Linked DNA regions of Homo sapiens: region 1 is linked to region 2. Evidence: fine-mapped expression QTL. A gene starts in region 2. The other region holds a variant in brackets. All regions are shown on one strand. Distances are from middle to middle. Region 1 overlaps MAP2K6 (mitogen-activated protein kinase kinase 6). Region 2 holds the start of MAP2K6 (mitogen-activated protein kinase kinase 6).

Region 1 (15,268 bases), 87 kb before region 2:
GAGAAAGCATTCAACAAGATTCAATACCCATTCATAATAAAAGTTCTCAGGCAGGGCACGTTGGCTCGCGCCTGTAATCCCAGCACTTTGGGAGGGCCAAGGCAGGCAAATTGCTTGAGCCCATGAGTTCAAGACCAGCCTGGGCAACATGGCAAAACCCCGTCTCTACAAAACACAAAAAAAAATTAGCCGCGTGTGGTGGCATGTACCTGTAGTTCCACCTACTTTGGAGGCTGAGATGGGAGGATCACTTGAGCCAGGGGAGGCTGAGACTGCAGTGAGCCATGATCACACCTCTGCACTCCAGCCTGGGTGACAGAGTGAGACCCTGTCTCAAAAAAACAAAAACAAACAATCAAAAAGAACCTCTCAGTATACTGAGAGGTTTTATATAGTTGGGAACCTTTTCAACCTCATAAGTAACATCTACAAAAAACCTACAGTTCGCTTCATACTTAATAGTGAAAGACTAAATGCTTTCCCTCTAAGATGAGGAACAAAGCAAGTTTGCCTGCTCTCATGAACTTTATTAACCTAGGACTGGACATTCTTGCCACTTCAATAAGGCAAGAAAATGAAAGTAAAAATCAAAGTAAAGATTGGAAAAGAAAAAATAAAACAGTCTCCATTTACAGATGCCATGACTGTTTATATAGAAAACCCTAACGATTCGATGACAAGCTTCTAGAACTAATAAGTGATTTTAGTAAAGTCACAGAATAGAAGATCAATTGCAGAATCCACAGAATTCAAGATCAATACAGAAAAAATCTATTGCATTTCTATATACTGACAATGAACAAGTGAAAACCAAGTTCACAAATCAAATTCCACTTAAAATTTGCTCCAAAAAAAACTTAGGTATAAATTTTAACAAAATCTAATATAGAGGAATTGTATTATAAAAATGCTGATGAAAGAAATAAAATTTTTAAAGTTGAAGAAATATACCATGTTTGCAGATTGGAAGAACCAATGTAGTAAAAATGTCAATTTGCCCTAAATTGATCTATAGCTTAAACACAATTCCTACTAAAATCTCAGTAAGTTTCTCTGTGGACATAGATAAGCTTATTCTAAAACTTATATGAAAAGAGAAAGGCCTTTAGAATAGTCAACATAGTTCTGAAAGAGAACAGAGTGAGAGGAATCATGTTTCCCTGTTATGACTTACTCTACAGCTGTGGTAATCAAGACAATGTCATACTGGCAGAGGGAGAGACAAATAAATCAGTGGAACAGAATAAACAATGCGGAAATAACTTCAAACAAATATGCCCAATTGGTATTGACAAAGGAGCAGAAGCAATTCAATGGAGGAGGGATAGCCTTTTCAACAAATGGTGCTAGAATAATTGGTAACCCACTGGCCAAAAAAATAAAGCTCAACCTAAACTCATACCTTGAACAAAAATTAACTCAAAATGGACCATGGGCTTAAATGCAAAATGCAAAACTACAAAACTTCTAGACAGATCTAGGACTAGGCAAAGGGTTCTTAGACTTATTATCAAAAGCATGATCTGTAAAAGTAATAATTGATAAGTTGAACAAACTTTTGCTCTGTGAAAGACCCTGCTAAAAGCATAAAAAGACAAATTACAAACTGGGAAAAATATTTTCATATCACATATATATCGGACAAAGTCCTCGTGTCCAGAATATACAAATAACTCTCAAAAGTAAACAATAAAAAGTATCTAATTAGACAATGGGCAAAAGATATGCACAGACATTTCACCAAAAATATATAGATGGAAAATAAACACCTAAAAACATATTCTACATTATTAGCCACTAGAGAAATTGTAAATTAAAACTACATATAGGCTGGGCACAGTGGCTCACGCCTATAATCCCAGCACTTTGGGAGGCCAAGGCAGGTGGATCATCTAAGATCAGGAGTTCGAGACCAGCAGACCAGCCTGGCCAATATGGTGAAACCCCGTCTCTACCAAAAAAAGAAAAAAAAAAAATCAGCTGGGCATGGTGGCAGGCGCCTATAATCCCAGCTACTGGGGAAGCTGAGGCAGGAGAATCACCTGAAACCAGGGGGCAGAGGTTGCAGTGAGCCGAGATCACGCCATTGCACTGCAGCCTGGGCAACAAGAGCGAAACTCCGTCTCAAAAAAAAAAAAAAAAAAAAAAAAAAACTACATATATATCACTACACATCAGAATAGCTAAAATGAAAAACACTGATAATACCAATTGCTGGCAGAGATCCAGAAAAACTAGATTATTCGGACATTATTGCTGAGAACATAAAATGGTACAATTACTCTGGCCAATAGTTCAGCAGTTCTTTCAAAACTAAAGATGGGCTTACCATATAACCCAGCAATTGCACTATTGGGCTTACACCCCAGAGAAATGAAGACCTATTCTCATGCAGGAACTTATGCATAAATGCTCATAACAGCTTTATTCATAATAGCCAAAAATGGAAAACTACCCATATCTCCTTCAAAGGCTAAGGTGTTGAACCAACTGTGGTATAACCATACCATGGATGGGTACTTAGCAATAAAATGGAACAAACTATCAATACATGCAATTATTTACATGAACCTCAATAAAATTACATTGAACAAAAAAAAATCTCAAAAAGAGATGCATGATTTTGTTTATATAACAATCATGAAATAACAAAATGGCAAAGGAGAACAGATTAGCGGTTGCTGGGGATTAAGGACGGAGATGGGGAGAAGAGGTGGGTTTGATTATAAGAGGGGAGCATAAAAGAGTCTTGTAATGTTGCTGTAGTGAAGTATCTTGATTATAATAGTACTTATGCAAGACTTACACAATGTGATAAACTTTATAGAGCTACACGTGCACACACACACACACACACACACAAAGGAATACTTGCATAGCTGGCAAAATTAAGTTCTATGATTTGCACTACTGCCACATTCTTGATCTTGATAATGTATTATAGTTGTGTAAGATGTTAACTTGGGATGGCGGGGGAGTTTGGCATGGCCTGGGGAAAGGGATCTATGGGACTTCCCTGTACGTTTCTTTGCAACCTCCTGTTAATCTACAATTATTTCAAAATAAAAAGTTTTAAAAGTATATCCCATAAATTCCTATACAGGTAGTAAAAGTAGGCCACATATTTGACTGTAAGCTCTTGAGAAACCAGTCAGAGAGGAAACAATAGTAATTACACAGTTCACAGGTCTACGAGAAAAAGAAATTGCTCAGAGAGACCGAAAAAAAAAGAAAAAAAAAAGAGAAAAAGAAAACAATCTTGACAGCAAGTATGGGAAGACGGATCTTCCTCCTGCAGATTCTAATGAAAGGAACATTCTATCTTGAGTTTAGACTCTTGAGCTACAGTCCAGAACCCTGAAGAGTAGCCCTCAACTCTACTTTGTCCTTAAAAATTCTCCAGTGGAAAGTGTCTGTATACTGCTTCACGCAATGCAAGGACCAGTGGCTTTAACAAAGTCTTACAGCAGACATGATCCCATTTAAGAACACATTCCAACACTAGGGGTGCACTTCCTGATAGCAGATCATAGCTAAGATCAAAACCCATCACAAAGGGAGGCACTTTTGTAGACATGAACAAAAGCCTTACCAACTCACTTTTCCATTAGGATGCCCTCTCTTTGCCCTTGCCCTGTCTCTCTAACACCTCTATTGTGAGTTTCCTTGGAATTTCCATTCCTCTCATGCAGATGCCTTGGTAGGTGGTTGTACCTCCAGCTGGACAGGAAGTACCGTTCCCACCACACAGAGACAGATAAAAAATAAAAATAAAAAAAAAAAAAACAAGAAGGAGACATCCTCACAGAGAGGATGTCATTTACACGATGTCCTTCACTAGGACTTGAGCTGACTTAGGGATTTGGGCCAAAACCTCAGCTAATAAAAAAAAAGTGTTCCTTTACCTCATTCTTCCTTCTGTTTATATGGGACAGAATTTAAGTGTCAGGATGTGGGTCCTCACCAAATACCATCTTTCCATCTCAACCCAAGTTTTATAGTAGTGGCTTTCACAGGGATTTGCCTGTTTGCTCCAATCTACAGGGAAAAGGCAAGGAAGTTCACATCCAGGGGCCTTTCTGGCCTTACATAGAGCCCCATCTGCCAAATATATGTGACATTCACTTCCTACTCAACCAATAACTTAAGACACTGAGTTCAAAACTACCCATTCAACGTAACTGACTGATAAGATGACTATTTCAGGTCTCAGAACAGTGAGCAAATGGCTTCCCCCTTAAAGGGCTCTTCTAAAGTCAAGGCATTGCTCAGCAGTCCAAAAATAAACCCCCAGGAGGAATCTGAAAGCACAAGGATTTGGATTCAGATGATGGTCTTGTCAACTTACGTGGAACTGGTCTGAGGTTGTTCAAATGCTTCTTTTGGAATTTTAAGGCCAGGGTTTCGCTTCTTGCCTATGGGGAAAGACAAAAGGAAAAAGTTAAGGACTAAATCATAGCAAGATAGCAGAGAAAGAGACTGCGGCAAAGGAAAGAGCTGACCTGCACAGGCAGCTCTCATGTCTCCATTCAAAGCGCCACTTCCTACCCAGGAAGTCTGTGAGTGTTAAGAACCCAAGCACCAGGTAGGACAGAGCTTCTCAAATACAGACTGTGGTCATGAATGAGGTTTTTCATTAGTCCAGGGGGCAAACATCAGGATGAGAATGCCAACTCTCTTTTCCTAGGAAGATCTGCCCTTTCTCCCCACTGAGAATTTGTCATTGCAACTTTTTTTTTTTTTTTTTTTTTTGAGACAGAGTCTCACTCTGTCACCCAGGCTGGAGTACAGTGGCACAATCTCAGCCCACTGCAACTTCTGCCTCCTGGATTCAAGCGATTCTCCTACCTCAGCCTCCTGAGGAGCTGGGATTACAGGCATGCACCACCATGCCCGGCTAATTTTTATATTTTTAGTAGAGATGGGGGTTTCTCCCTGTTGGCCAGGCTGGTCTCGAACTCCTGACCTCAGGTGATCCGCTGACCTTGGTCTCCCAAAGTGCTGGGATTACAGGCATGAGCCACCATGCCTGGCCTTGTTTTTTGTTTTTGTTTTTTTTTTCTTTTACACTATAATGGTGATGGCAGACACTTGGTTATAGCTTTTTTTTTTTCTTTTTAGTGTTAGTAAAGGGTGGTCACCCTTATCTTAGTAACCCACTATTTTCTAAATCGATCTGTTAACTACTACAAAGTTAGCAATGGAAGTAGAATAAAAAATGCTTTTCCACTGTTCTGCCCTCCCCTTTTCCCAACCACCTGCTGTAATTTGAAAAACTTAAGAGAGGGATAGAGTAATACTTATTTACATTTTCCCTGTTCCAGAAAGGATTAAGATAACAGATGAGCTTATGCAAGGAAGTTATAACTTCTTCTTGGGCCAAATGGAAAGGTAACTTGATGTTGATCACACCTGGGCTGAAATTACAAGAGAATTTGGCTCGAATACTTTTGTTGATGAGTAAAAAAGAACAGACTGAGAAATGCCAGCTCAGGAAGCAGAACAGAGCAAACAAGGGCCTGGGGTTTTCCTCATGCATGGAGATCCTGTGTCTCTTTGCACTTGGCAGGGGAAACCAAGGGAGAGCTGCATAGAATGGCTGGAAAGAATGCTACCTTCTGCCCAGGCGCGGTGGCTCATGCCTGTAGTCCCAGCACTTTGGGAGGCCGAGACGGGCGAATCACGAGGTCAGGAGATGGAGACCATCCTGGCCGACACGGTGAAATCCTGTCTCTACTAAAAATACAATAAATTAGCCGGGCATGGTGGCAGGCACCTGTAGTCCCAGCTACAGGGGAGGCTGAGGCAGGAGAATGGCGTGAACCTGGGAGGCGGAGCTTGCAGTGAGCTGAGATCACACCACTGCACTCCAGCCTGGGCGACAGTGCAAGACTCTGTCTCAAAAAAAAAAAGAAAAAAAAAGAATCCTACCTCCTTTCCCACCTCTTCTCTACATTGCAGATGAGCACTCAGAGATAACACAAGCCCTGGATATGGCCCTGGATAGATCCTGAAGCTGCAAAGAAACTTAAACCAATTAAAATAACCTCCTTGCAGAAAAATAACATCCAAAGACTTCAGTGACTTGCTCCACATCACAGAGGTCAGCAATGACCCAGTCAGAATCAGAATCCAGGTCTCCTGACACCCAGGTGGGAGTTCTTTCTACTATCCTGCAATAGAAGACGTTTAGAGATGACTGGAGAGGGGGCAGGTGAGACGTACCCGGGATTTTGAGTTTTAAAATACCCAGCTGACATCTGGTTCTTCCACGCATCACGCAACTTCTAGAATCACTTTTCATCTGACTCTCAGTTTTCTCAATTGTAAAATGAGGAAGTAACAACCATACTCACCTCACTGGACTGATATGAGAATCAAAGCAGATAACATATATGAAAAAACATTAAGATACCTTAAGTAGCTGTTAATTAGATTCATTTAGGGAAACAATCAGTACTGTCTCATTTTTTTTAAAGTCATTTAAAAAATTAATGAAGAGAACTGGCCACATCATTATAGCCCACTATAATGTATAATGAAATTTTTCAATTCCTTCAGAATCCAAAATCAGATCAATTCTGCCAAGTTGTATATAGCCAGGAAAAAATATGCTTCGCAGTAATCAGCCTAGAGAAAGCCTTTTAGGACCACCTTCAGAATAAGAGGCTTTCTCAATTCTCTCCTCATTTGGGTTTACTTATGTATTTTATAAGGTTCAAAACTCACCATTCACTTTCCTGCTCTTGGAACTCAAACAGCTGTTAAGGATGTTACTAAATTAGTCAGTTATTGACATCGCATAGAGCTTTCCTATGTACCAGGAACTATGCTAGGTGCTGGACCCAGTTATGAGAATCCAAATAGATATATGGCCTAATTCCAACAATTCCCATCCATGCACCTCAGCCAAACAGACAGGGAATGTTACTTTCGATGAGATTCTTCAGTGAGGAATGAATGACGGATTCAACTTGTTTAGATAACTATACAGATAACTACATACAAATTCCAGTGCAGGTGACAGATAATTCAGGTAATCCCAAAAGGCGACCCTACAGTTCTCTCAACGAAAACAAAAACTAAAGTAACATATATTTTGCCTATGAAAACTGGTCTCCAGTTGTCATTTAAGCAAACCAAAAGCAGAAGTTACTCTTAAATTCCTACATCTTTCTCTTCTTTACCTCTAACTCAGTTCTTACAAGATAGATGTAAAGAGAAATAGCTATTTATTGAGAAAACCCCTTTGGAAAACTTTAATATAGCAAGTAATTAGTAGCAATTCTTAACAGCAATTAATTATTACACCATAACTTAAATCACCAAAACATCTATACAAAGAAACAGTAAAAAAGAGAGAAAGTTTTTAGCACAGAGACCAAAGGAATAAAAGACCAAAATAATAGTAAAGTCTTCCAAGTGGGAGGAGAAGGCCTTTGATTCTCTCCCCAGATCACTGTTACACCCAGCCACCCCCACAGCCCCCCACATCAACATCATTCTTACCCTGAATTTACTGCCTCCTAGTTGAAATTGCCAGCCTCCTGTCTCCAGACTCTAAACCCTTGACTATGTATATAAGTTGGACATCTGCATATCTTAAACCTAATATTTCCAAGTATATCAGCTCCTCAGAACAACAAGAAAAAAAAATAGATCCAGGAGACACAAAACCTAGTTGAATTACAGTGTTAGAAAATACTCTGCCTTCACGTTTACATCAAATAAAATACAAATCACAAGCACACACAGCAACACTCTGCAGTTCGCTTACTTGCCCATCTCTGACAGAGCAGCACAGTAAGAGACCAGCAGAGGCGACTCTGGTGAGGTTTTCGAGGCTGCAAGGAAGACCAGCAGAGGAAAACCTAACAGAAGTCATTCTTCACTTAGCTCCAAAGACCACACTTCGGCAAGGAGAAACAGAACTGAACAGACTCCACCCCCTCCTCAAGTTCGGATTGCAGCAAACCTCTGCAAGCTCATTGTTCCGAGGAAATTGCAGCTTCAGGAAGGGAGAAGGGAAGTGGGTCTATGTGGACACCCAGG[C/A]GTGACATTAATCATTAACCAGACTTGGAGGAATAAATCTATAAATCTGGACAGTACCATGTTCTGCAGCTTTTCTATAAATGCCTCTTTGATTTCTTAAAAGAAAGAAAAACAATATGTGGTCAGTTTCCAGCTGTGTTTACTTCACAGCAATCTGTTCCCCCAGGAAGGCAGCCAACACCTGACGCTAACATTGAACACTGTTAAAAAAAAAAAAAAAAAAACATGGGAGGGAGCACTATGAATAATAAAGCTAAGTGGCCAACTATGTTCAACAGTCTTTGCCTTTGATATTCTAAAGCAAAGCAGAAAAAATGTCAGAAAAAAAAAAAGGCTTTCTATGATGTCATATGCTAGCAACAAGCCTTCTCGGAAACAGAGAATTCTGTAGATTTCTGCAGATCGCAACAAGCCTCGACTGCTTATTGGCACAGTCTGCAAAGGGTAAGCCTCGTCGGCCTGATTGGGCATATGCAGCACTATATTGCATCAGACCCTGTTACCCGCATGACTGTGTTCTCTGAAAATAGTGTAATCCCACCACACACATATATTTGCAAAATTCATCTGAAACCAAAGCAAAGCTGGGTCATTATAATCCTGGCCTGGAGCAAAATGGCACTGGAAAAAAAAATTTAAAAAGCCTTGCCAATAGTTAGAAAATATTTACCAGGCCACAGAAATGTTCGCTAGCTTTGACTGCACCGAAAATGATGGGGTACACGAGAGGTCTTGCACACACTCTGAGAGGGTAAGCACAAAGCACTCCTCTGATGTTCCTCATTACATAAAACAGAAGATTATGTTCCACTGCCAACCCAAACAGCATGAGAAGCCCACGCGGTCAACAGAAGGTGGCATCGTGAAGATATGCTGATGCCTAAATATTTGTTAGCTTGGCCGAGGGTTGGGGGCACGACTATGAGAGTTTATGATTATTGACACAGCTTCACAAAAGGATGGCAGTGTTTCCAGTGCCAAATTTATTTTAAAAATCTGTTTCCCAATATGAATGGGATTTCCAGCCAAGTAACTGGCAATCTAGAGGCCTTGGCTGCCCTCTCCTTACTACTTGCATCTAGGCTTACGTTCCAAGGGTAGTTGGCAATAAAACCAGCAGTGAAGTATCATTCAGTGTTATTAAATTGCAATCATCATATGCAAAGCAACGAACGAAGCAGGGCAGGGGAAGAGGCATGCAGGAAGAAAGCTGGCTTTGCAACAGCAATGTAAAAGTGAACAGGGACTCTGCCATCCTCCAATCTTCCAAAACCACTGGCTCTTATATACCACTGAGATTCCAAACACTGAAGACAAATCTCTCTGGAATTACAGAAAGTTTAGAGAAGAAAAGCTGAAAACCTCTTTTTTTTTTTCTTTTTTTTTTGAGATGGAATCTTGCTCTGTCACCCAGCCTGGAGTACAGTGGCACAATGTCAGCTCACTGCAACCTCCGCCTCCCGGCTTTGTGTGATTCTCCTGCCTCAGCCTCCTGAGTAGCTGGGATTACAGGTGCCCGCCATCACGCCCAACTAATTGTTGTATTTTTTAGTACAGATGGGGTTTCACCATGTTGGTCAGGCTGGTCTTGAACTCCTGACCTCGTGATCCACCTGCCTCAGCCTCCCAAAGTGCTGGGATTATAGGCGTGAGCCACCATGGCCGGCCTTTTTTTTTTTTTTTTTTTTTTTTTTTGAGACAGAGTCTCACTTTGTCACCCAGGCTGGAGTGCAGTGGTCCTATCTAGGCTCACCGAAACCTCTGCTTCCCACGTTCAAGCAATTCTCATGGCCCTCAGCCTCCCGAGTAGCTGCGACTGGGAATACAGGCACGTGCCACCCCACCCGCCTAATTTTTGTATTTTTAGTAGAGATGGGGTTTCGCCATGTTGACCAGGCTAATCTCAAACTTCTGACCTCAGGTTATCCGCCCGCCTTAGCCTCCCAAAGTGCTGTTACTGGGATTACAGGTGTGAGCCACTGTGCCCAGCTGAAAAGCTCATTTTAAAACCTGCAGTCAGTTTGATTTCAGAGTCAGAATGAATCTCCTAAGACCTTACCTTTGCTCATACTGTTCCTTCTACCTGGAGGGCTCTAGCTGTCTTGCAGACAAGAACTCAACCTTCCAAATTCAAAACCTCCCTCATAGAACCTTCCCAGAGCTTCCTGAACACAATCTAAGGATTACTATCCACACATTCCTGCTTTCACATTCTGGCACCTTACACTCAGCCTGCAACACAATATGAGCTCAAAGCAGCTTCCCTGAAACTTTGATATTTTAGTTGAAAAATGTCCACTCTCTCTACAATAGATCTCCACGACCATCTTCCACTCATTTCCCGCAAACCTTTTCTCACAATCTAGAATTATTTTATTTTTGTATTTATTTATTTACTTCTGCATTTATTTATTACTTGTTTATCTACCTTTCTCCACTAGAATATAAGTTCCATGATGGCCAATGATTTTGCCCAGCACCTGCACATCATAAATATTTGTTGACTGAATGTTTGTTATTCTTTTCTCAACTGTTTTGAACATTTGTACAGAGCTCTTCAAAAAACAAACAAACAAAATGAACAACCAAGAATGGAATGGAAATTGCACAAACCTCTGCATCAATAAGAATCATTTCAAATCCCAGCTGTCCCACTTAGTGACGTAATGTTGAGAAAGTTTCTTATCTTAAACTGAGTTTCCACACCTGCAAACTGGAGATGATGTACAATCTCCGCAGGTCATTAAGAGACTCGATTGACACAGTGTGTGTGAAGAAGCCTAGCAGGGTGTAGCATAATATAGGTGCTCAATAAATACTTCCTTTTGTCCCTTCCATGTTTACGCTTACATTTTTAAAATATGAGTTAAGCAGAATGTTCCCTGGATGGCATCTTATTTCTTCAAATTCCGTGCTCCATTCTCCCTCTTTCGTGTTATTTACACTAGAATTACATTTTTCAAACATCTCATCAATCTTGAATCTACCTCTCTTTGTGCCCACTGACTATGGGAACTTCTCCAGGTCTATAGACTCAGGATTTCTGGGACTGAGTGTAGTGAGTGCTTATAATTTTACATTGCCTCAGTATCCATTTTTAAACCTAAGTTAAACTATCTCACATCAGAAGCAGGGCTCAGTCACTCTTAACACGGTGTCTAATACCACACTCCACCAGATTGGCTCCAAACCAGTGGCCAGACATGAAACTTAGAGACATCTCTCCTGCCTAGCAGGCTGGCCTCCCTACTTTCCTGCCACTCCCTTTAAACAGACCATGCAGACATTTGCCCACAAACGTAAGGTGACCACCTCTCAGTCACGCTGTGACCTCCTAGAACTAGTGCCTGCTTGCTTTAAACCCAGCAATTAAAGCTCCCTGCAGGAAACTGGATAACGCCCTGTACCCAATAAAGACATTGGCTCAGTGGTCCCTTCTCTCTCTCTCTGCGTGCACGTGTGTGTGTGTGTGTGTGTGTGTGTGTGTGTGTGGCTTCCAGGTGTGTGTGTGTGGCTTCCAGGCGTGCTGGGTGCCATACAGAGTCTCTAAGTGCTAAAAAGTCTTAAAATCTCACATTGTAGTTGTGTCACTGAAGCCACACTTGCAATCCTATCCCTATGGGTGAAACTGCCCCAAAAGGACCCATGCAGGTGGGTCCCCTGCTGATGCCCTTTTGTCCAGGTCTCTCAGCTACTGGGGACAGTAGTTACCAGCTAAGTTGATAGAGTGAGGCTTCAGGATCCATATATTTTTTTAAGTTTCACAAGTGTCTGAGAAATCAGCCACAGTTAAGTAGCCCTTGTCTACCACATGTCTATGTAAAGTTGTTTTGTGTTTGTTTGTTTGTTTGTTTGTCTTGTTTTACCATTTCTCACTTTATGTTGCCAACGTCACTTTCCTCCAAGGCTCTTGTCACATCCCCCACAACCCACCAGTTCTTTCTGATTAGTAAGAATTAAATTCCAAGCTAGCTCCTCACTGTGTTATCTCTATCTTTGAGCTGAAATTGTCAATCATTCCCCAGGGTACACATTGCAAGGGTCAAAACTTATTAAGATGCAATTCTGCCATCGAAGCATCAGGAGATATGAAAACCCAACTCCATAATAACAGCGGGTATGTGTGATGTGCAATACAAGCATTGCACCCTGAAAGCAGGAGAGAAGAAGCAAGACAAGCAACACTGAGAAATGGTCTCACATACGAAGTGGTATTTGAAGTGGCCCTTTGATTTTGGTAGGATTTAAGGGTACCTGAGGGTTTGTTATACTGTATGTCTTCTTTATATATTTAAATATTTCCAAAATCAAAGTTTAAAAAGACCATGGGTGGGATTTTGACAATCAAGACTTGGAGAGACAATAAGGGGATTCAAAGTAAAATGAGGATGAAATATCTTTGTAAGGAGAAGCACTGTGGTATATTCAAAGAATTCTGAGTTTTCTACTCTGGACAAACTGAAAAGTGGTGGAGAGAGAAACCTGGAGGAGGAAGTTGGAGTCAGAGATCAAAATACTGTAACAAATATATTTTAAATTTCAGATGTAAAAAGAGAAGTCATGTATGTTTTTCAGTAGAGGAACATCATGCCACATCCATGCTTCAGAAAAAAAAAAAGATGTAACAAGATGAACTGATCTAATAATATCAGGATGTTTTGAAACTGTGCTACACACACACTCATGCATAAACCCACATACTCTCATGCCTTGATGTTTTATGCCTCCAGGTCTTTGCTCTTATTTTCCTCAGAATGTTGTTATTACCTGTTTTCCCCAGTCAACTGCGACACTCAGCTCAAGTATGTTTTTCTCCAGGAAGTCTTCCATGAAAGTCCCCAATGCAATAAATACCTTTCCTCTGTGTTGCCACAGTACCCTGAACCTTCCTATGCTGATTAAGTGAACCCATCTGTTCATCCATGTCTTCCACTAAAAATGCAAGCCCTTTGAAGTCAGGGCCCATGTCTTCTTACCTATGTACAGAGTTTAAGCACTAGACCCAAAAATAAGAGGTAGAGACCACAGCAATCTGGCTCACAAATAAGCTGCTTGAATTTTGCAGAGGCAAAATCTATAGGCTCTGGTCACTTACTGCATAAGAGGAACAAAGGAACAGAAGCATAGTAGTAGTACTGGAAGTAGTAATAGTAATAGTAGAAGTATTGCTACTAGTAATAGTAGTGGTAATAAAAATGATACTCGTCATCTGGCTTTTCCACCCCCAAATGAAGTTAAGTGAAAGAGGAAAGTCAGGTCAGTGGGGGTGGCCAGTGGGGAAAGGGCAGATCATGAGTTCCAAGTCAGATGTATTAAGTATAAGATGCTGCAGGGACGGGACGCATGGCAGAATTCAAGCAGGCAAATGGAGCTTAAGAGAGGGACAGGAGGAAATGAGTAGATCTGGGAATGACAAACAGAGAGGTAGAAAGTTGCCTGAGACAGACAGGGAAACAAGAAGAATGAAAGAAGGTGGCCAGGTGCGGTGCCTTATGCCTGTAATCCCAGCACTTTGGGAGGCCAAGGTGGGCGGATCACTTTAGGTCAGGAGTTCGAGACCAGCCTGGCCAACGTGGTGAAACCCCATCTCTACTAAAAATACAAAAAATTAGCCGGGCGTGGGGCACACGCCTGTAATCCCAGCTACTCCGGAGGCTGAGGCGGGAGAATCGCTGGAACCCCATCTCTACTAAAAGTACAAAAAATTAGCCGGGTGTGGGGCACACGCTTGTAATCCCAGCTACTCTGGAGGCTGAGGCGGGAGAATCGCTGGAACCCGGGAGGCAGAGGTTGCAGTGAGCCGAGATCGCACCACTGCACTCCAGCCTGGGAGACAGAGCAAGACTCCCTCTCAAAAAAAAAAAAAAAGAAGGGAAGGCAGCCAGCCAAGCTAAGAACATTTCGAAGAATCGGTGAAGGACACAAAGAATTACGTTCCTGTCAAAGAAGAATGAGCCAGCCTGTCCATCCGCTAATTGGGAAATGGCCCCATTTTAAGAGAATAAAAGTGCTCAAATGGGTTTTATTACAGCTTCATGTGATTAAAGCTAAAAAAAAAAAAGTCCTAGTAGACCTTTTATGTCATGTTAACAATTTGGTGTTGACTAAGATGTTCTTAAAAGAACCTAAAAGCAAATCACAGCCAATGCCCTGAGTTATGTTCTAGGCCCAGGGAAAAGGCAGGAGGCAGGCAGTAGGGAACTCCTACTGTCTCGGTTCATCTCCTTCCTCATTTATGGGCTGCTTCACTCATTAGCATTGATCGCAAGGAAATGTAGTCATAAGGGTGTTAAAAACATCACTTTAAAATAAAAAATGGCAATGGGTTGCAAAGAAATTTAGTGGCGTGCTCGAGCTTTTCAAAATACACACTGGGTTTTGGTTAGGTTTTAAAAAATAAGTATTTTTTTTTTAGAGATAATACTGAAATGTTTACGAGTGAAATGATATTATTCTAGAATTTGCTTCAAAAAAAAAGGCAGAGTGGGGGATAGAGATACAGATAAAATAGGATTGGCCATGAGCTGGTCATTGTCAAAGCTGAGTGCTAGATACCTGGCAGTTATAATACAGTCCACTTTTGAATATGTTTGAAATTTACCAAAATAGCCAGGCGCAGTAGCTCAAGCCTGTAATTCCAGCACTTTGGGAGGCTGAGGCGAGTGGATCACCTGAGGTCTGGAGTTTGAGACCACCCTGGCCAACATGGTGAAACCCTGTCTCTATTAAAAATACAACAATTAGCTGGGCGTGTTGGTGGGCGCCTGTAGTCCCAGCTACTTGGGAGGCTGAGGCAGGGGAATCACTTGAACCTGGAAGGTGGAGGCAGTGAGCCGAAGTCTCGCCACTGCACTCCAGCTTGGGCGACAAGAGCGAGACTCCAGCTCAAAAAAAAAATAAATAAAAGAAAAAATAAAACGAAATTTACCAATATATAAAGATGTTCTTAAATAGTAACAGAATCACAGAAAATTCTGTTTTAATAGTTAAAAGAGTGGCATAGCGAATAAGAGGGGTGAATTTGTTGTTTTTTTTTTTTTTTTTATGTGGAAGTAATGGATTCTTTTTTTCCTCTGGTCCAAGACCACAATTTTGGGTTTTTGTTTTGTTTTGTTTTTTGGTTTTTGGTTTTTTTTCTAGACAGAGTTTCGCTCTTGTTGCCCAGGCTGGAGTGCAATGTCGCGATCTCGGCTCACGGCAACCTCCACCTCCCAGG
Region 2 (15,268 bases):
GCGTGGTGGTGCACACCTGTAATCCCAGCTACTCGGGAGGCTGAGGCAGGAGGATCGCTTGAACCCAGGAGGTGGCGATTGCAGTGAGCCAAGATCGCGCCATTGCACTCCCAGTTGGGCAACAAGAGCGCAACTCCATCTCAAACAAACAAACAAACAAACAAACAAAAACAACAGCTGAAGCTAGATTTGGCCCAGGAGCTGCAGTTTGCTGCACAGGCCCACCAGTCAGACATCCATCCTGCCTCTGCCACTGACTCGCTATCCAGCCATGGGCAAATTGGTTAACAACAATTGATTTCCTCACTCGTAAATTAAGGATAATAACACCAACTTTGTCCATAGTGTTTATGGGACATCCTAAAGCATACTATATGAAAAGTAACTGGCTTAGGGTAAGTGATGATGACAACAGCCTTGGGAGTGGTACAGGGAGGGGTTGTGATCAGCAGCTCCACCTGGGGCTAATGGTCTGTCCAAAGAAGACTAATCTCAAGAATCTGACTTAAGAAGGGATGTACAGACCAGAAAGTAAAACAGATGACAGGGATGCTGCAAATGCTTATTTAATGCTTCAACTCAGACTGGAGTTGACTAAATTACGATGATTTGGCCAGGCGTGGTGGCTCATACCTGTAATCCCAGTGCTTCGGGAGGCCGAGGTGGGTGGATCACCTGAGGTCAGGAGTTTGAGACCAGCCTGGCCAACATGATGAATCCCTGTCTCTACTAAAAATACAAAAATTAGCCTGGTATGGTGGCAGGCACCTGTAATCCCAGCTACTCGGGAGGCTGAGGCAGGAGAATTGCTTGAAACTGGGAATCAGAGGTTTCAGTGAGCTGAGGTTGCACCACTGCACTCCAGTCTGGGTGACAGAGCAAGACCCCATCTCAAAAAAAAAAAAAAAAAAAAAAAAATTACGATGATTTCTGATAGACTTCATTGTATGGGGATTATAACCTGAATATCCTCCTCAACTCAGAAAGAGGGAGATTATGGACTACATACTGAACCGCATGGGCCAACTCAGGAAGACCATCAAAGGAGACAGAGTGGGGTACAAGCCAGGGAGGAAGGGGCTGGGCAGAGGCAGTGGAGGTGGTCAAGGAGGAAGTGAAGAATCATTTCACTGGGAGGTGATCCTTGCGAAGTTCCCTGTTTTGTTAGAGGGCAGCCAGCTGTTAAAAACACTGTCTCTGGGCCGGGCGTGGTGGCTCACACCTGTAATCCCAGCACTTTGGGAGGCCGAGGCGGGTGGATCACGAGGTCAGGAGATCGAGACCATCCTGGCTAACACGGTGAAATCCCATCTCTACTAAAAATACAAAAAAAATTAGCCGGGCATGGTGGCGGCAGGCACCTGTAATCCCAGCTACTCCGGAGGCTGAGGCAGGAGAATGGCGTGAACCCAGGAGGCGGAGGTTGCAGTAAGCTGAGATCGCACCACTGCACTCCAGCCTGGGTGACAGAGCGAGACTCTGTCTCAAAAAAAAAAAACAAAAAACAACAACAAAAAAAGGATTGTCTCTGACAATCCTTCAGAAGCCTCATAGACTTAAAAACCAGCTCCTAAAACCAGCACAGGATGCAGAAATCACTTCAATTCTATTGGATGGGATTCTTCGGACAATTCATCTTCTCATATTTTTTAAAAAGAAAGTTAGCAGAGAATTGTGCAACCTTTAAATCTGTTCAGAAGGCTTAGGTAGGAGAAATGACACTTCGCCAGCCATTATAAGTTGCTTTTCATGCTGTTCTTGCAACTTCCAAATAATTAAGCAAATACATAATGGGAATATCAGTGCAAACAAAGAAGAAGCACAAGAAGAAAATTGCATTGTAATTTAATTACCCGAAATCTTTCATAAAACTTAGGAGCAAATGAGAGCTTATCCCTACTGATGAAAAATACTTTCATTGTCAGACATTTTTTGAGCACCTATTATTTATAAGGACAATGCTATAAGAGTCAGAGATGTAAAGATATATAAGAAAAGGTTTAGTTACCCAGCAAGGGCTTTCAAACAAGACAGTCCATAAAAGGCAAACAACCATTACAGTGGTTAAAACTTGCAGCTGTACTATGTAGGCACTGGGAATCAAAATGAGAGCATTTGCAAAATATCCTTTGGCAGAGAACTGGTAAGAAACCCCACCACCATGATTCACATGTCACCATTTCTTGGACACAGAAAAATAACCCCTGCTCATTATACCATCAGCTCCCCCTTGCCAGACTGCTCCCAACAAAAACAAGCAAAGCTAAAAATGTGAAATATACTAAAGATTCTGAAGAAAAAAAAATTTTATAAATGTGGATTATTAGTGTTCACGTGTGGTTTAGTGAAAAGAACTTACGGACAGAGAATCTGTAGATCTGACTTCTCCCTGTGACTCCACTCTACTGTCTTCAGGAAAGTCACTCACTTCCAAGGCCTCAGTTAGCTTATGTGTAAAATGAAGTGATTGGACTATAAAACTTTCATAGCTCTAAATTCTATCACTTAATATCAGGATGCATAAATAGGCGCATTTATTAAGGCTATGTTAAGGATATGTTAAATCTGATTGACTTATATGACTTGTGAGGTCATTAAAATTGATTCTTAACAAGAATCTTAAAGATTCTAGACTTAATTATTTTAACAAATGTAGGAAATTTAAGTCAACCACCTTTTGTGATTAGGCATTGCACAGGAAGCTAAAAAAAATTAGATTAAATTTCTCTGCAACAATGCATATAACACAACCAGGTGCTATGTAAGAATTATTTATAAACCTAAAGAAAAACTAATTTTGCCTGAAAAGATAACTGAAAATGCAGGAATGCCCAAAAGTAAGCTATTTCTCAGACTGGAATTTAATCAGATCACTACATTTTTCTTATTATTTTCATATAGGTCTGGATAGCTATAGACTATATAAATAAAATGAGTTTATAAAATATGTGATAGCAGCTTAAGACATTAGGTTAAAATTAAAATTAGAACTCATCAAGGAATTAAATTGTTTAGATACACAGAACCCAACTATCAATCCAGGATTACCTAACCTCTACAATATTGCTATTTTCTGGCTAACTTTGAAAATAATTTGATCCCCAAATTAATTAATTTTTTTTTTTTTTTGAGATGAAGTCTGGCTCTGTCACCCAGGCTACAGTGCAGTGGCACAATCTCTGCTCATTGCAACCTCCACCTCCCAGGTTCAAGCGATTCTCCCAAGAAGCTGGGATTACAGGTGTGCACCACCACGCCTGACTAATTTTTGTATTTTTAGTGGAGGCAGGGTTTCACTATGTTGGCCAGGCTGGTCTTGAACTCCTGACCTCAGGTGATCCACTTGCCTCGGCCTCCCAAAGTGGGGTTACAGGCATGAGCCACCATGCCTGGCCACCCAAATTAAAATTTTAAGGATATATTTCATGAGAAAAAAAGAAATTTGGGCACATGAAACACAAATGTCAAAAAAACTGAAAAATGCAACTGCCTTATCACTAATAATATTAGAGTAGAATATTAATAGCTTTCATCAAACTGCCAAAGATTTTTTCAAATTGTTATACCCAGGATGAAGAAAGGTACCATCTTCCTGAAGAGCAATTTACTTGGCAATATGTACCATTATGCTTGAAAGGACAGAATGGGCACGTCTAAATATTATTGGTAGAAATGAGAATTAGTGTTACCTCTATGAAGGGCAATTTAGCAATATATCTATACATGCCCTTTGACCCAGGACTTCCACCTCTAGGAATCATCCTAAAGAAATAATTGGGCAAATGTATAAAGATGTATGTTCCAGGTATTCCTTACAGTACTGTGTATAGCTGTGCAAAAAAATGGAAACTGTTTGAAAACTCAATATGACATTAAGTAAATGGCTACATTCTTACAAATTAAAATTCACGGTTGTTAAAAAATAGGTAACCTTATGTGTACTACTACAGAAAGATATCCAAGATATATGGTAGAGTATAAAAAAGCAAGTTACAAAATACAATATATAGTGTGTAAAATAACATGTACATACAAATATGGAGATAGTACCCAAAAAACTAACAGTAATTAGCTCTGGGTGGTATGACTTTGAGTGAGTTTTATATTCTTATTGTGAATTTATCTTTGGTTTGAATTTTTTGATTAGCATATGTCATTTTTTTTTTGCAATAATAAAAAGCTATTTTCAGAAGGAAGAAAAGAGAATGGAGAGTGAAGAAGAACTGGACATTCAAAGCCTGTGGTTTTGCTCCCTGGAATTTAATCTAAGGGCATAGTATGCATGATAATGTAGGAACTGGTATGATCATCACGGAAATATTCACAATAGTGAAAGTTAATAAACATTAAGATTCTATTTAAATAAATACAATGGAAGAGGATACTATGAATGTAGAAATATATAAACTTGGGAATATTTTGCCATATATTGGTAAGTGAAACAAGAGGGAACGAAATAGACTTAGTTTTACACACATTTTGGATGCTTCATACACATAGATAGAAAAAAAAAGTCCAAGAGAATAAATGCCAAAGTGTAGACTGCAGTAACTAGTCATTCTTATTTTTCCTTTTCTATGAAATGTTTCTATAATGAACAAGGGTTATTTATGAAATTTCTTTTAAGTTTTAAAAATATTCCTTGTAGATCTTTCAGATTTTAAAATACTGGGGAGTCATTAAAGTAACACTAATCTGAAAAACAAAGACAAGAGAATCTCAACTCTTTTCTCCAACATTAAATTTACCAACCAGAGACCCCTGAAGCCCCCTACAGTTAACAGGCCGCATGCTCTAAAGAACTGAATGCAATGCTAATACAAAGCAAGCTCAGGAAACCCAAGCTACCTATTCTGATTTTGTGTCCTGAGATGTACGGGGTTATAAAACATACTGGCTCAGATTACAGGCTAAGCATGACAAGTCCGTCTGGTACAACCTAACAAAGGAATTTATAGAGAACAAGAAATTTACACATTTCATTTCCCAAGGGTGGAATGAATTACAGAAGCAAAGAACCCCAGTAGAGTTAAGACCTTTCCTACCACTCTGCTATATGCTTCTGAATTGTGCCTCATAGGCATTTCTTACATGATTTACTTATTGCTCTCTAAAACTAAAATAAACTAATATTTTTTAAAGGTGAATAGGAGGAGAAGTGAGAAAAGTGTATTTTAACAGGGTCAAACTTTTTGTGTATTTTCAGGTGAACTGGGGGATGCCAGATCTCCCTACCTCCCTCTTTCTCTCCCTCCCTCCGGAGATCATTATGGCTGATAACAATAGTTTTTCTCTCCCGGGTAGTGTAGATGACACATTTTTCCTGTAGCTTGTCTTCCTGTAGTGTGCAGGAATTCCTGCACTTTCTGGGTGCCCTTCCTGTTAACTTACATTTCAGATTTCCTCAAAAGGCATTCTACTGCTTTAATATTTGAAAAATGTCAACTCAACCCCAGACAGCTAATATAAACAAGCTGAAAAGCATACCACCTAAAGTTACAACTGTGGAAAACAAAATTTCTTTTTAAGAAATTCTTTCTCGGAATCTCACTGTTGGTAAGGCTGTAGAGCAGTAACCCAGTCCTTCCAGCTTCCAGAGAGTCTGTAATTCCTTTGCCTCTGCTGTGCCTTAAATTAGAGGTCTGTTAAACCGAATTATAGTGATCTAGAAAGTTCGTAAAGGTCCTTGAATTGAACATATTGTTAAATTCTTCAATACTATGAGATTGTATCCACTTTTCACTTTTCCTCCCATTTCTTGGGTTAGAATATTAAAAAAGAAGTTTGGTACTGCAAAAAGTATTTTGGCCATTTGAGAATAGCGTAGCTGAATAAGGCCAATTCCACATTTAAAGTCCAGGCCAAGGCGGCTGGCTCTTTTGCCATTTCTAAAATGATCACCCACTTCTTTCTACCAATAATTTTCCTTTCGGACAAGAACCCCATGTTCATTCCAGATGTACTTTCCAAGCAGAATCCAATTAAGAAAACTCATCTGGGTAAATGGGAATTGATTTGAAGGACCACCAGTACCTGATCCATTGTAAACACATCCATAGGGAAGAGTGCAGTGCTAATATCTCCTTTGGCTTCTCAACTCAAAAACTGGCTCTACTAAGAGGGAGCCACGTTCATAGTGAGCCCAAAAATATGCAAAAAGGAGCCTGATTTAGTTTAGACCCTAAAGTCCAAAGATAAGATCACAGTAAACACCACCCTCTTCATAAACCTTCCTGACTATCCCCCAAATAGATAAATCACTTCCATTTTTAAACTCCAATAGCACCATTTCTCTTCAATACCTGTCCTATTATCTTGTATTATAATGATTTCCTTACATTCTTGTTTTCACCAACCCGAAGGAAAAACTTCATTTTAAATATTTTTGTGTGTCCCTAAATCATGTGCACACATACACACACAATACATACATATACATGCATATATATACACACATACATATGTATATACATGCATATCACAATATATTACACATATATTAAACTGAATTGAATGAATGAGCGAATGTTTACCAAATACAAAGTAACTAAATGCCATCTCTTTAATACATCAAAGCATGGACTGCCTCTTCTGAACTATTATTTCTCTACTCAATAAGGAGATTTTTAGGTTTTCCCCACTTGAGGAACATCTCCACCTGATATGTCAATTCCTAGGTTCTTCAGCACTCTTAACTTTTCAGATTTCCATTCTCCCCTAATACTCAAAGAAAAGCAGAGTGCTACTTTGAATGCTTGAGATTACTACTTCCTTCTTGGGCTGCTGAGATATATGACTCCCATCAGGTAGAATTAAAAAGCGGTGCAACAACTCCCCACACTCCCTCCCAAAAAAGTAGCAAAAAGCTTGTTAGACCCTTTAATTTCACCATGTCTTACTCAAAGAGTGCCCCGGGTAGCCTAATTCAATAGTATCTAACACCTCTCTTCATCATCCCATACTTCTCATATGGCATATGCTTTCTCTATGGTAAAGAAACAATTGTTCTGAAACAAGTGACTTGGGGTCCCAGGGGCACCTGACAGCACCTAGTCTGCTCTTTGATGTCATATCAGGAATTTTTTAAATCCCCTTCCCAGGGTGACATTAAGCCTGCAAAATACAACTGTGTTTAAAAACAAAAATTAAGAAAAGAAAATAAAAGAACATAAAGAAAACAACCATAACGTGAACTTCCAACCTATTACAGCTGACTAAATACACGCAGTTACACACTTAAAATATTTCATTATGCTTGTCAATGAAACAGTGCAGTCCCTTCACACTACTGTAATGCTTAAAAGTACAGTTTTACCCCCAATATTTTCCCCCAAGATGCAAAGCATCCCCCAAATGGGCAGACATAAAACATTAGGTCTTCACTGCTGCTTCTAAATTTTGCGAGCCAATAAGCAATTGGTGTAAAGTGCAAAATCTCAGAAGAGCAAGACTCGTCTGCTTTTTTGTGATATGCTGTTATTCACCCTTCACCTTTACTTCCTTTAAAAATCAAAAGTTACCTAATGTTCAAGGCGATATCAATGGAAATTTAGCTAAATACTGGCACCGCAACGGTCTATTTCCCCCAAAGAATATAAGATTACATTAATTTCCTAGTAGTTTAACTCAAGTTTTACCTTTCATCTTCACCTATAGAGTTTTTAAAAGTTTCTATTCCTGTTGCATACAAAATTACTTACAATATCTGTGCATAGTAAAGAATTTTACAATTATATAAAGCCTTGCACATTTAGACGCTACCAACCTGCTCTGTCTCTCCTGACTGTGCAAAAGGCAAAAAGAGCTCAGTAATCCTAGCAGAAGAATGCAAATAACGTCAATGCACAGCTGAACTGCAAGCCCTGCCTTACAGGAACTCTCTGTGTCTGCAAAAAAAGACACATACTAAACAGGAAATGCAACTGAGCTGTGGAAAACCTCAAACTTAAAAATGCACTCGCCAGGCGAAAATTGCATCCATGCATTCATAAATGCATGCACAACCCTTTGCATTTTTGCAACTAATGCAAACAGCCTCTTACCTTTCGACTGAGACATTTTCCCCTTTCCTTTGATGGGGGAGGGGAGCACAAAAGACTTTGCCTTGCTTCTCTTCTGTAGCTAGTTTTGCAACAAAGATGCAAGCTGCAGGCGTGCAATCTTCATGCAAGTGGAGTTTCTCTTGACCGATGCAGCAGATGGACTTTCAGGGAATCAAGATGGAAATGCACACCTTGCAAAACAGACTGGAAAGTGATTTTTCCCCCAGTTGCAACGTTAGGGAAGGCTGTGCTGCAGCTACATGATGGGCCAGGGCTGGCAGCTAAAAGCTCCAAACTTGGAACTGAGTATCTTAGTGCGCAGACGTCCTTCCTGCGAAGGGCGCGAAGGCCGCTGGGTAATGTAGTTCTCCGGCGGAGTCCACGGGGCTCTGATTTAAGGAAACGTGGTCGCCCCGGTCGCTGAGCGAGATAACTGGGTGCGACAAAGATTGCGTCCAGATAAACAAGTCAGACACACACTCAGTAGAGTGATGGGTGAAAAGCGGCAAGGCCAAGACGGGGCGGCAGTTTTGTTCTCGAAAAGCCTCTGAAACAACAGCTAAAGAATATTAGGTTAGCTAAAGAGCTTTTGGCTTGTCGAGAAGGTCTGTTTGGGAGTTTAGTGTGTTGATTTTGCAGCTCAGCACCTGTTGTGCTGTTCTTGCCTGTAGACGTTTTACCCTCACACCTCCGTTTTTTGTTTGTTTGGGGGTTTTTTTGTTGTTGTTGTTGTTGTTTTTTTCCCGAGAGGGAGTCTCGCTCTGTCGCCCAGGCTGGAGTGCAGTGGCGCGATCTCTGCTCACTGCAACCTCCGCCTCCCGGGTTCAAGCAATTCTCCTGCCTTAGCCTCCCAAGTAGCTGGGATTACAGGTATGCGCCACCACGCCCGGCTAATTTTTAGTAGAGACGGGGTGTCAACATTTAGCCAGGCTGGTCTCGAACTCCTGACCTTATGATCCGCCCACCTCGGCCTCCCAAAGTGCTGGGATTACAGGCGTGAGCCACCGCGCCCGGCCACACCTCCATTTTTAAAAACATTTTTTCTAGTAAGAAAAATGTATGGATGATTGGGTTGGCTGGAGGTAAGGTTACCTTTGCTCTGTGGAGAAGATGCAAAGTTTTATTTTGTCAGAAACAATCCAGGTCAGTTATTTCCAAGGAACCCGAAACTCAGTAGGGGGTAGGTGTGGGGAAGAAGATTGGAGGCTTCTCATTTCTCACAGGGTTACAGAGGAAGTTCTGCTTTTTATACATCAACGCTAACTTTATCAAAATTAAGGTATCTAGATGATTTTTTCTCACCTGGGAGGAGAGTCCCTGGCCTAGGGGGAAAGTGGGTGGAAAATGAATACAGTCGAATATCTTGAATTTATTCATTAAAATTAAAAGATACTTGTTGAGTGTCCAGGATGTGCCAGGCGCCTTTCTAGGGCCCTGGGATGTTCATTCATTCTGTACCGCTCACACATAGTGGGTACACAGCACCCTGATGGAGAACGGCATCACCTTTTTCACAAGGAAGCCAGAGATGCTTAGCACAATTCACTGCAAGGAATGGAGAGGAGTGAGCAGGGCATGGGCAAAAATGAGCTCGGACTTATACTTCATGGAGCAGACAGACTCAGAAATGTTCTTTTAAGACAGAGGGAGGAATTGAGGAATTCAAGGAGGTGTGGACAAAGCACTGTGGCAGAAATAAGGACAACCTTACTCAGAAGCTGCCAAGGAGACCTTGTTGCCTTGTGTGCAGGAGTGGTGAGGGCGGGGGAGATTTACAGGTGAGGACTCCACAGGGCCTTAAAAGGTGGGCTAGAGGTTTGGACTTTATTCTGCAGGTACTTGCGGGGAGGTGAAAGGGTCTTGCAAAGGGGCGTAACTTAATCCAAGCATTGTTTTAAGAAAGTAAATTTGCCCTCAGCAATCAAGGTGGGTTGGAACTGGGAGAGGCTAGAGATAGGTTAGGTCAGTAGTGAAAGGCAAAAAGAGGCACTTTGAAAGAAGATTCAGCTAGATTTGATGATTACTAATGAAAACTATTGGAATTGTATTTAGGATGCTGGAAGCCAGGACCATCTGCATAAGGGATGCATTAGAGGGAAGGAAGCCGTCTTATTTCAGCTGCAAACCAGCAAATCAAATCTTAAATATGCAATAGGTTGTGAGACTAACATTAATTTACTTAAGTTGGTCCCCTTTACTGACATTCTTGACAATTAGTGAAGGCAATCTAATCTCCATATTAGCTTCTGCCCCTAAGAGGAAGGCATTGCTGGTCTGTGAACACAGGTGCAAGGACTTTCTAACTCTTTTATTGTCCTTCTAGGCTAATCCATGTTGTCCCTTCCCTCCTATCGTATACACACAAGCTCAGCACCCCCTCAAACCAGCATGGTTTCCTAAGTCTCATTTAACCAGGAGACACGTGTGAAAATCTAGTTCACTTTCCCAAACACTGATGGAGCCAGGCCCTGGGATAGCTGCTGGAGCTTTCTGTAAACTGGCTTAGCCCAGGCAGGGCCTGAACAGCCACCTAGAGCTTGCTTCAATTTGCATTTTATGTGGTCAGCTGCATTGCTCTTAAGTAGCCCCAGACTCCCTTCTTTATGGAAGAGTTCTAATCACAACTTGTCTGGTGCATTTTGCCACTGTCATTACTGCTCTTACTTTCTCTGCATAGGCGTGCGGAGTCCACAGCTGGCAAATGGATTGTAGCTTGAAAGTCAATCTGCAATTCATTTTCCCATAGCACCAACAATATGTTCAGCAGCTAATATACACACACAAGCACACATGCATACACAAAACACCTCTCATCCATAAATTGGCTGAATCATCCGTTTAAAAATAGCAAAATTTTGTATCATATTTCTTTCTGGGAAAAATGTATCCTGAATTTCAAGTAGGAAATTGGGATGACAGGGAACTCAACCTCTCTGTGAAGTCTTGGTTCCCAGAAGAAAAAGTTCTTCTTCCTGCCTTGGTGTTCAAAAGTTTCCTCTCCCACATACGTGGGTGGTGGAAGAGGAGGTACCTGTGCTCTTCTTCCTGCCAGTCTTCGTGGTATCATTGGTACTAGGAGGAGAATCCTCCCCATTGTGGCGTAAGAAGGCAGGAGTGAATTCTGGCAGGTGTCTCCTTTTATATGCACATCAAGTGTTCATCTTCAGGTGGCCCATGCTTCTGTTTTAAATCCCCCATCTTTTTTTTTTTTTTTTTTTTTTTTTTTTTTGAGATGAGTCCTCGCTCTGTCACCCAGGCTGTAGTGCAGTGGCGCAATCTCGGCTCCCTGCAACCTCCACCCCTCAGGTTCAAGCGATTCTCCTGCCTTAGCCTCCCGAATGGCTGATGTTACAGGAGCTCACCACAACACCCAGCTAATTTTTGCATTTGTAATAGAGACAGTGTTTCACCGTGTTGGTCAGGGGGTCTCAAACTCCTGACCCCAAGTGATCCACCCACCTTGGCTTTGCAAAGTGTTGGGATTACAGACGTGAACCACCGCGCCTGGCCTCCCCCATCTTTTTAATTGTTTGTTTGTTTTTATTTTTTTTTTTAATTTTTTGAGACAGAGTCTCACTCTGTCGCCCAGCCTGGAGTGCAGTGTCATGATCTCAGCTCACTGCAGCCTCCACCTCCCAGATTCTCCCACCTCAACCTCCAGAGTAGCAGGGATTATAGGTGCATGCCACCAAGCCCAGCTATGTTTGTTTGTTTGTTTTTAGGGACAAGGGTCTTGCTTTGTCTTCCAAGCTGGAGTGCAGTGGCCTGATCATATAGGTCACTGTAGCCTCAAACTCCTGGGCTCAAGAGATCCTCCCACCTCAGTCTCCCAAGTAGCTGGGACTGCAAGCGTGAGCTACCATGCCCAGCTAATTTTTGTTATTTTTTATTGTAGAGACAGAGTTGCTGCGTTGCCCAGGCTGGTCTCAAAGTCCTGGCTTCAAGCAATCCTTCTGCCTCAGCCTCCAAAAGTGCTGGGATTACAGGCACCAATCTTTGTAATTTTCTGTACTTCAGATCTTTCTAAAATGCAAGTCAGATGCACTCTCCTCTCAGTTTCTAAATATACTCAGGATCTATTCCAAACTCCATGGCATGGTATAATTGGTTCCTCAAGACCTGGGCCCTGCTTTATCTCCAGCTTCATTTCTCATCGTATGTTGACATTAGAGTCAGGAGAAGGCAGCTTTTCTCACTCCTTGCCATTAGGTACATGCTCTCATGCTCGCTCTCTCTCTCTTTTTTTTTTTTTTTTTTTTTGAGACAGTCTTGCTCTGTTGCAATGGCATGATCTTTGCTCACTGCAACCTCCACCTCCCAGGTTCAAGCAATTCTCCTGCCTCAACCTCCTGAGTAGCTGGGATTACAGGTGTGCACCACCACATCCAGCTAATTTTTGTATTTTTAGTAGAGAAAGGGTTTCACCATGTTGGCCAGGCTGGTCTTTAACTCCTGACCTCAAGTGATCCACCCCCCTCAGCCTCGCAAAGTGCTGGGATTGCAGGCGTGAGCCGCCGCCCTCAGCCTGGTACATGCTCTCTGTCTAGCAAGACTTTTCCATTTTCTTCCTAGTTCCTTCTGACTTGTCCTTGAAGACTCAGCGGGCACGTCCTTTGGACTTTCTCAGCCACCCTCTGTAACACATCACCCTGGATTCCAACAAGGTAGTTACCACTGGCAGGGAAACCTGAGCACCTCGCCTGGAAAGAGCCTTGTGCTGTCAGGTTCGAGGTGTGAGATCCTTGGAGGGAGGCCTTTAGGTTAGGTCAGACTGGCATCTGAAGGAATTATTCTAGAGGCATATGCAGGGAGGAGGAGGTCGGGGAGGTGTCACATATATTCCACAGGCCAGGAACAGTACTTGTGACTTAATAGCTGAATATCAGTGTTTCTCAACTGGGGGTAATCTTGCCTCCCAAGAGATGTTTGGCAAGTCTGGAAATATTTTGGGTTATCACAATAGGGGGAGAGAGTGTGATACTGGGATCTAATGGGTATATTGGTATACAGGGATACTGGTAATCATACTATAGCATACAGAAAGCCCCACAACAAAGAATTATCTGGTCCAGATGTCAATAGTGTGAGTTTGAGAAACCCTGCTACATACCATGGAAAGTTACTAGATGCTCTTCTTTTTTCTTTTTTGAGATGGAGCTTCACTCTTTTTGCCCAGGCTGGAGTGCAGTGGTGCAGTCTCAGCTCACTGCAACCTCCGCATCCCAAGTTCAAGTAATTCTGCTGCCTCAGCCTCCCGAATAGTTGGGATTATAGGTGTGCACCACCATGCCCAGCTTATTTTGTATTTTTAGTACAGACGGGGTTTCACATGCTGGCCAGGCTAGTCTCGAACTTCTGACCTCAGGTGATCCGCCCGCCTCAGCCTCCCAAAGTGCTGGGATTACAGGCATGAACCACCTGGTCTGGCCTAAATGCTCTACTTTTAAGTTAATTTAAAGCTAATGAGATTTAGTAATGGGATATTTTGACATAGGAAAAACACTAGAATCTAAGAGATCTGGATTCTAATTCCGGCTGTAGAAAAAGTTAGCTGTGTCTCCTAAGGCAAGTCATTTTACCTTTCTGGGCCTCTTTTAGTTCCACTATAAAATAAGGAGACTCAGACTAAGGCCTCTTCCAGTTTTAATATTCCATGTCTCTAAACCCAACTCACCTGTTTGATTAAAACCACAATGATTTAAAGAGAGAAGGGAATTGTGATCACACATTCTATTTTATACACTGGCTAAACATCTTCCTGATCCCTTGCTTTGGCAAGCCACTGATGACTCTCATAACAACGTCTCTTAAGAGATGAGACAGGCCAGGCGTGGTGGCTCACGCCTGTAATCCCAGCACTTCGGGAGGCCGAGGCCGGCAGATCATGAGGTCAGAAGATCAAGACCATACTGACTAACACGGTGAAACTCTGTCTCTACTGAAAATACAGAAAAATTAGCCAGGCATGGTGGTGGGCTCCTGTAGTCCCAGCTACTCAGGAGGCTGAGGCAGGAGAATGGCATGAACCCGGGAGGCAGAGCTTGCAGTGAGCCAAGATTGGGCCACTGCACTCCAGCCTGGGTGACAGAGAGAGACTCCGTCTCAAAAAAAAAAAAAAAAAAAGATGAGACAAGAAATACTTATATTACCATTTGAAATACTGCCTTCAAAGTAGTAATACAAATCTGCACGTGACATTTATGAATGTTTTCCAACAGTGTCTACTAGATGTCAGAAACAAGAGAAAGGAAGCTACCAAAGTTCAAGCTAAGAACTCAAGTCTAAATATCTACTTTTCCAGACCCTAGAAAATCATTGCATATACAGGTGTGTTATATATAGTGAAGTATATGGGGGAGAAGCAGGTGGAGGATTCATTTAAGGGACTGGATGGCAAGTTGTGATGGTAAAATATTTTTAAGTACAGTTTTGTTTTTTTTTTACTGCACTAAAGTGTCACAATGAACTATGATTACCAGCAGAAATTCTAGAAATCTCAGTGTGATTCAACTTACAATATGGCTGGCTATAGCTGTTTAGCCTTATGTCTCATTCATCCACCATAGGATTCCTTTGTTTAAGCAATCCAGTCCAAACAGGATTACTTATCCCAATGAGCCATGAATTGACATGGCACCACTTCTATACCTTAGTGCATACTGTCCAATGACTTTGTTCTATGACTTTGCCTTTTTCTGGCCTCCACTGCCATCTCTGTTTTCTAAACTCTGTTCTTCATTTGAGGTTCTAGCTCATCTCTTCCATGAAGATGTCCTTGATCACATCCCTCTGTCCCATTAAAGAGTATCCACCCTTTTAAATTCTGGTGGCATCTATTAGCTCTTATGCGCCATATATCTGATATTATCTCTCAGTAACATTACTTAACTACAAATTTTACCTTTTCTACAAAATGGTGTGTTCCCTGCACCTTCCTAACCTACTCCTTTGGGAAGACCTTGCTTGTCTGTATTTGGCCCTTGACTCTAAGCTTAAGCAGGGACAGTTTCATCAACATCATGTAGCCCCAGGTCTGGCATTTGTCATGCATATAATATGTGCTCAACCAATATTTGTTTATCTGATGTTTGCATGGATTTATTATCTACTGAATGAATTCATCTAAAATAGGTTGATTATCTGTTAGCTTATCTTAGCCTTCTTTGTTAAAAGTTAAAGAAACACCAGCATAAAGATTTGCTAAGAAGAAGAATTTCTTTTTTTTT

What was found.
Region 1: its variant is fine-mapped to the expression of MAP2K6 in whole blood (TOPMed, PIP above 0.99).

The regions. Positions count from the first base shown.
Region 1 is chr17:69,494,927-69,510,194 of GRCh38, reverse strand. MAP2K6 (mitogen-activated protein kinase kinase 6) reads right to left here. Exons shown (of 12, transcript NM_002758.4): 2 at 4,349-4,415. Among named protein-coding and RNA genes, the nearest start is that of MAP2K6-AS1, 17 kb to the right of the region's middle. RefSeq lists enhancers at 3,357-3,858, 6,053-6,112, 6,183-6,232. The variant C/A (reference allele first, on the strand shown) is at 8,053.
Region 2 is chr17:69,407,775-69,423,042 of GRCh38, reverse strand. MAP2K6 (mitogen-activated protein kinase kinase 6) reads right to left here and starts at 8,346. Exons shown (of 12, transcript NM_002758.4): 1 at 8,043-8,346. The coding sequence starts at 8,058.